2 linked regions of the Homo sapiens genome follow. The protein of the gene in region 2 purifies or fractionates together with the protein of the main gene of each other region. This does not show direct contact. Each region holds a gene or a part of one and is shown on either strand. Other genes may lie near its edges.

Region 1 (3,655 bases), on a different chromosome or scaffold from region 2:
ACCACCCTAACCCACCAAGCCCCGTAACTCTCACCTGAACCACTGCAACACCTCCCTTCTCCCAAGTCCTCCCTTCTCCTCCAAACCACTCTCCACTCAGGAGTCAAGAATATGCTTCTTTAAAAAGCAGGGGGCAGTGGTTGAGAATACGGATTCTGAAATGGAAGGCTTGGGTTCCAATCACAGCTCCATCACCTGCTAGCTGTGAAATTTCAGACCAATTACTTAGCTTCCCTATGCCTCCATTTTCCAATCTGAAAATAGCAATATGATGAAGAGTCAATAAATTAAGACGCAGAAAGTACACAGGACATACAGCATCAAGTAAATATTAGCTAAAATTATTGAAATGTAAATCAAATGAGATTTCCCCGTTTAAAAATCTTTCAGCGGCTTCATGTACTTAGAATAAAATCTGCATTCCTTAGCTACTGAAAGCCTGACATGGCCCCAGTCTATCTCTCCCGCTTCACTGTCTGTTCAAGCCACACAAAGCTGCTTTTAATTCTCTAGAATACTCAGCTCTTGCCAGCTCCATGCCTTCCCTTCTGTCTGGTCCACTACCCCTATAGATTGCACCTCGAAGGGCATTTCCTCAGAGGCCTTCCCTGGCCACGGGCTTTCCCTACACCTCTCCCATCCCACACTTTCTCTTCCTCAACCTCTTGTTGATTTCCTTTAACACATCTAGCATAATACATGATTATTTTATATATAGCTGTTTACCTCTTTTGTCTGTCTCTCCATCTAAACATGAGCTCCATGAACGTGGGAAATTTATCTGCCGTATTCACCACTGTTAGGCACTGATACAGTTTGGATATATGCCCCGCCCAAATCTCATGTTGAACTGTAATCCCCAATGCTGGAGGCAGGACTTGGAGGGGAGGCGACAGGATCATGGAGGCAGATCCCTCATGGCTCAGTGCTGCCCTTGCAATAGTGAGTGAGGACTCCTGAGATCTGGTCGTTTAAGGGCGTGGCATCTCTTCCCTCTTGCTCCTGCTCTAGCCATGTGATGTGCCTGATCCTGCTTCACCTTCCATTATGAGTAAAAAGCTCCCTGAGGCCTCCCCAGGAGCCGAGCAGATGCTGGCACCATGCCTGTACAGCTACAGCCTGCACAACCATGAGTCCATGAAACCTCTTTCCTTTATATATAACCCAGGCTCAGGTACTTCTTTATAGCAATGCAAAAACGGCATGACACAGGCACTAATAGCTCTTGTGCCATGCATAGAACCTGGTATTTGGTAGAGACACCATCAACATTTGAGTAAATGACTACAAAAGAATATACTCTAAGCATAATCTAAAAGCATCCACTTTTTAAACTCTCAAAAATACAGTAGTTAACTTACTACAGAATGAAAAATAGGTAACATTTTATAACCTTACATTGCATATCACATTATCTTTTTGTTGCGGTCTTCCCAGAATATTTTGTTTGTTTGTTTTGAGACCGAGTCTCACTCTGTCGCCAGGCAGTGGCGCTATCTCGGCTCATTGCAACCTCTGCCTCCAGGGTTCAAGCAATTCTCCTGCCTCAGCCTCTCGAGCAGCTGGGACTACAGGTGCGCATCACTATGCCCGGCTAATTTTTGTATTTTTAGTAGAGACGGGGTTTCACCACATTGGCCAGACTGGTCTCGAACTCCTGACCTCATGATCTACCCGCCTTGGCCTCCCAAAGTGCTGGGATTACAGGCGTGAGCCATTGCGCCCAGCTGTATTTTTTAATCTATAAAAATTCCCTCAAAAAAGGTGTAAAATGGGTATTTTCTTACCATCATACTATTTTTCTATGAAACTGCTTTCCAATTTTAGAAAAAGTGAAGACAGATTATTCAAACTTTTTTGAATTTCAAAAAATAAAAAGGCGCATAGTGAAAAGTTTCCTTCCCACCTATATTCCCCATCCACTCAGTTCCCATCATCTTCCCCAATCAGGTAACCATTGTTATTGGTTCCTCCTTTCACCTTCCAGGGAATCTGCATGCATCAGCCATTACCTCCTCTTTCAAAACACAAGAATGGGAGCACGCAATGCACACTTTCCTACACTTTGCTCTTGTAATTTTGTTTTGTTTTTTTGAGACAGGGTCTCACTCTGTTGCCCAGACTGGAATGCAGTGGCGCAATCTCACTCACCGCAACCTGCACCTCCCAGGCTCAAGCGATTCTCCTGCCTCAGCCTCCCGCGTAGCTGAGATTACAGGCACGCACCACCACTCCCGGCTAATTTTTGTATTTTTTTAGTAGAAACGGAGTTTCACCATGCTGCCCAGGCTGGTCTTGAATTCCTGACCTCAAATGATCCACCCGCCTCGGCCTCCCAAAGTGCTAGGATTATAGGTGAGAGCCGCCGCGCCCGGCCTGCTCTTGTAACTTAAGATATTTTGGAGATCTCTCCATGTCAACTAAGAAAAGAGCTTCCTCGTTCCTTTCTACAACTTTACAACCTCATTAACCATCTGGGCATGGATTTATCTGATAAGTCTCTTGCTTGCTGATGGACACTCAAGGCAATAAATAATCTTGTACCTATGTTATCTCACACGTGTACAAATATATCTGCAGGTTAAATTCCTAGAACTGGATTGCTGGGTCAAAGGATTTACACGCCTGTAATTTTTAAAGCTACTGCCTAAAGCACCTGTATCTATCAGGGTCCACCCAGAGAAACAGAGACATCCAGAGAAACCATCCCTTTAAGAATCTGATATAGAGGGAATTTAATATAAGGAATTAGTGACAGGGGTGATGGAAAAACTGAAAAGCCAAACAGGAAATGATAATACAAAGATTATCAAGAGCAAGCTGCTGTTACCACTTCTCAAATAGAGGGTAAAAGGGAGGAGGTATTTCCAAGACTCAAAGGCTAGGACCAAGGGGCAGGAGCTGGAGCCAAAAGGAGACAAGGTACCTGCCAGAGACACTCCCTGAGGCAGGCCTAAGGGAAATAACCTGTTTTTGTCCTTCTTCCTGCCATTCCTCCTGCCAGTGGCTCCCAGTGGCCAATCCCAGCCGGAAGCCAGCTGACCAAGGGCCTGGGAAATGTTGCCTGCAGGGGTGAGTCCCTGCAGGGAAAGGGCAAGAAACGGATCTGAGCCAACAGGACATGGGCTGACCCTGCCTGTGGCTACTTTACACTCTTACCCGTAAATGTTTGAAACGACCTTGCCGTTCAAATATTTCAAACTTGAAACAGACTTTGTATACTTGGGGGTTATCACCTGTCTGAAGGTGAAAGGTGGGAGCTCAATCTAGTCTTAATTTGCATGTATTTTATTATGAACAAGGCTCAGCATCTCTTCACCTGAAGCACAGACACCTACATTGATCAGGGAGTGAAGGGGTCAGAGAGAAGAATGCCAATTATAGTTAATTCACCTCATCTGCCAGGGATGGTCCATTCAGGACCATCAATCAGACAAATGCCCAAACAGGACACGAAGACAATCCCAATGAGCCAAACTAGCCAGCTACCCTCCAATTAGCTCAAGAACTGTTCTCGAAAAACTGAAAGGCAACAAAGTCCCATAGGAATTAAAAACGACTTAACTACACTCTGCACACACTGTAAGGAACAATGTGTTCTTGTAATCTTGTGCCCCCCACTCGCTCCTCTTGTAACTGCCTTCCAGCCATTCAT
Region 2 (3,655 bases):
TGTTGTGTTTCTAATAAATTATTTTTCAGCTTAAATTACCTAGGGTCAAGTTCTATAGTTTGCAACCTGAAGACTGAAATTAGCAATGGTCAAGGCTGCAGTAAAATTAACATCAAGCAGATCTAGCAGGCTATACCAGGTTTACAGCAACAGGAACTGTGGGTTTGGAGGAAGAAGTCTTCCCACAGTAGAACAGAAGTCCAGGTATGGCAGAAAGTACTAAGTGCTCTAAAATCTATTTTATTTTCTTATTTCTATGTAACCTGTAGGATATTTCTCAGCCTCCCTTGCAGTTAGGTATGGCATGTGTATTAGTCCATTTTCATACTGCTATGAAGAAATATCCGAGACTGGGTAATTTATAAAGAAAAAGAGGTTTCATGAACTCACAGTTTCACATGGCTGGGGAGGCCTCACAATCATGGCAGAAGGTGAAGGAGGAGCAAAGGCACACCTTACATGGCAGCAGGCAAGAGCGTGTGTGCAGGGGAACTGCCCTTTATAAAACCATCAGATCTCATGAGACTTGCTCACTATCATGAGAACAGCACAGGAAAAACCTGCTCCCATGATTCAATTACCCTCCATTGGGTCCTCTCATGACACATGGGGATTATGGGAGCTACAATTCAAGGTGAGATTTGGGTGGGGACACAGCCAAACCATATCAGCATGTGACTGGGTTCAGTCAAAAGAATGTGAGTTGAGTGATGTGTGCCTCTTTCAGAATGGGCCCACTAGAACCTCCCACATGTGCCCTTTTTCCTTTCTATTTTGCTAGAAGGGAGACAACTGTAAGGTGGTCTTGAGAGCCATGTGTTGAAGATGGCATAGCTCCCACCATCCTGGGTTCTCTGAATGACTATATGAAGAAGGGTCACCCCACTGTATTGCTTCCCCTTTCAGTACTGATGCCTAAACAGGAAAAAAACTGCTGTTTGTGAGCTATTATACTTTTGGGGATCCCTTCGTTACAGCATAGCCTAGATTCACCATGTATGATAAATTAATCAAGCAAAGATTCAAATTCAGAGCAGGGCCAGTATCTATGCTGACTTGATATTGACCCCTTGAATTGATGGTCTACAGCTTCAGGATTTCTCCCAATTTATAAAAGAATAGATGACAATTGGAACAGAATCTTTAAAGGTATATGATGCAGCTATAGCTATACAGATTGAAAGGATACAGGCGAAAGAGCAAAAAAGCTCATTAGAGATTTGACAGTCCTAAATAGAATCATAGAATTGATTAGTGATCAATGAATTCTAAATTTTTCATTTCTTTTTTATGCATTGTAGTATCTCTATGCTAGAGATAATGAAAAGATAAATTATAACTCCAGTTCTGCTTTTTTCTCCTTTAACCTAGTTTTCCCTTCTCAAATAGATCCAAGTGATGCATCTTACTCTCCCTCCTGGGTTTTTCCCAACTCCTGAGGTTTAAAATAAAACCTACCTGGGGTTTTATTTCCCAGTTTTCCCCTTACTCCTTTTCAAGTGGGTGGTTTCTCAAGGAGCTCAGGGAGGATTAATCATCTCAGTTCTTGTAATCACAAGAGTATGTACCCAGTACATATTTGTTGAATGAAGAAATTATTGCTTTCTTTTTTAAATGAGATGACACTGCACTGATGACCCTTATCCATGTCTAAGTTGGAAAAGACCTTAGAGATCACATAGCCCTTCTGCTACACATGCACACACACCATTAGGGAGTCCCCTTCTATAGCATCTTTTATGTGGGTCATCCAGTGTGACTCATCTTTCTGGTGATGAGAAGCTCAATGCTTTATTCCTATACCGTTGAAAAATAGCTCCATCCTTTTTTTTTTTTCTTTTGAGACGGAGTTTTGCTCGTTGTCCAGGCTGGAGTGCAATGGTATGATCTCGACTCATTGCAACCTCCACCCAGTGGGTTCAAGTGATTCGCCTGCTTCAGTCTGTAGCTGGGATTACAGGCACCTGCCACCATGCCCCACTAATTTTTGTATTTTTAGTAGACAGGGTTTCATCACTTTGCCCAGGCTGGTCTCGAACTCCTGACCTCAGGTGATCCACCCACCTCAGCCTCCCAAAGTGCTGGGGTTACAGTCGTGAGCCACTGCACCAGCCTGTAAATATTATTTTTTAATTTCTCCATAAATCTTCCACTGATTGCTCAGTGTTGAGGTCCCTTACTAGTCACATATTCTGATAGAAATTCCCTTGCCCAGGGGTCAGTAAATTGGTTTCTAGCTCCAAATTATTATTCCATTCACAGGTCTTTATCTTCTCCACCAAGACATCAGAAAAAATTCTTCCAAGCCATACTAAAGTCCAGATACAATGCTTGTATTTATATTTCCAGGAATCTTAACAAAAATGAAACATAAGCAAATTTGTATGAATTGCACTAAGGCACTGAAGCTTTATATTCTTTTATATCTACTGTCACATCATTAGGCTGAGTCTGTCTTTGACTGCTTTTAAAAATAGATATTTACTATATCATGGGTAATCAATGTACATGCTTTCTATACCAACATTGTATTCTACACAGTACAGTTCCATCAGTTTCAAAGCACACAAAATGAAACCGGTGGAGAAGTGGGGTTTTTTTTTCCTGCCATTGTGGTGCACAGGAGTCAGAGATCGAGCACTAAAACAGCATTCCAGAGAAGCATGCTACTGAGGTCAATCCAGAATGTTGGATTCAAAATGTGTATTGCATCAAGATGGGTCTTATTAATGGAATCAGGCACTGTGTGATGTAGTGAGTCAACTCCAAAAGTGTAGATGAGATGGTGTGAAAAATCCAAGATGAGAGTCAGAATTACAGGACAAATTAGGCAAGATGGAAGTGGGCTGACTTCGTCCCTAGGACTGGCTGCCTGGATGTGTACTTGTTCTTTACATGCTGCAACTTAAGTTTACTTATGGGGGAGAGTAAAATCCATTTAGAGGGACTGGAATTTGAAAAATTAGTCAAAGTGAGAAAAGCATCATATCCAGACATTTCTATTTGGATAATATTCCTGGACTTTCAGCAATGTGTATATCTTGCATGAAAAGTCCCTAAGCTCTTTTCTATTCTCTGGAAAAGGTAAGATTACTCCATCATTTCTAGTAATATTTAATGTAAATCTCAAATCAGTCAGGTCATACCTAGTTAGGTCCATCATGTAATACAAAGTAGGAATGTACCTTGCAAATAAAATTGGGACAGAGAAAGGAATAACAGTAAAATGTAGTAACTGAGGACAAAAATCACTTGATAGAAAGTTTTATGATGAATCATCAATCTATAGTGATTCTCTGGGATGCTAGGGTACCTCTCTTGAGCCTCTAATGTCCACTGTGCCCCTTGTAGTGTTAGAGACATACTAAACAAGCCTAGAACCCATTTGGAATCAATCAGCATCCTGCTCACTGAAATAACCCCAAGGATCCCTATGTCCCTCTAAGAAGCTACCATTTAGGACCTTCTTGCAACACATTTCAGTTTCAGGCTCTTCCCTACTGGAACTTCTCCTGTTGGGACTGTAGCTAGGGGAGTTGCTTCTACAGGAATATGTGATGGAGACTGATGCAACAGAGATGAGACTGAATACCTTGGATGTAAGAACTATTTCCAAGATGAACTAATCTTTCTTAGTGCCAAAAGGGTTAAAATC

The links. The genes of interacting proteins can lie anywhere in the genome.
Region 1: the proteins of SCHIP1 (region 2) and CYTH3 purify together in Homo sapiens (affinity purification with mass spectrometry; one large-scale study listed by BioGRID and IntAct). This does not show direct contact.

Annotation. Positions count from the first base shown.
Region 1 is NC_000007.14:6,266,093-6,269,747, forward strand, and holds part of CYTH3 (cytohesin-3), read right to left. Parts: intron 1-3,655. UniProt on the Homo sapiens protein: Promotes guanine-nucleotide exchange on ARF1 and ARF6. Promotes the activation of ARF factors through replacement of GDP with GTP. Plays a role in the epithelial polarization.
Region 2 is NC_000003.12:159,276,100-159,279,754, reverse strand, and holds part of SCHIP1 (schwannomin-interacting protein 1), read right to left. Parts: intron 1-3,655.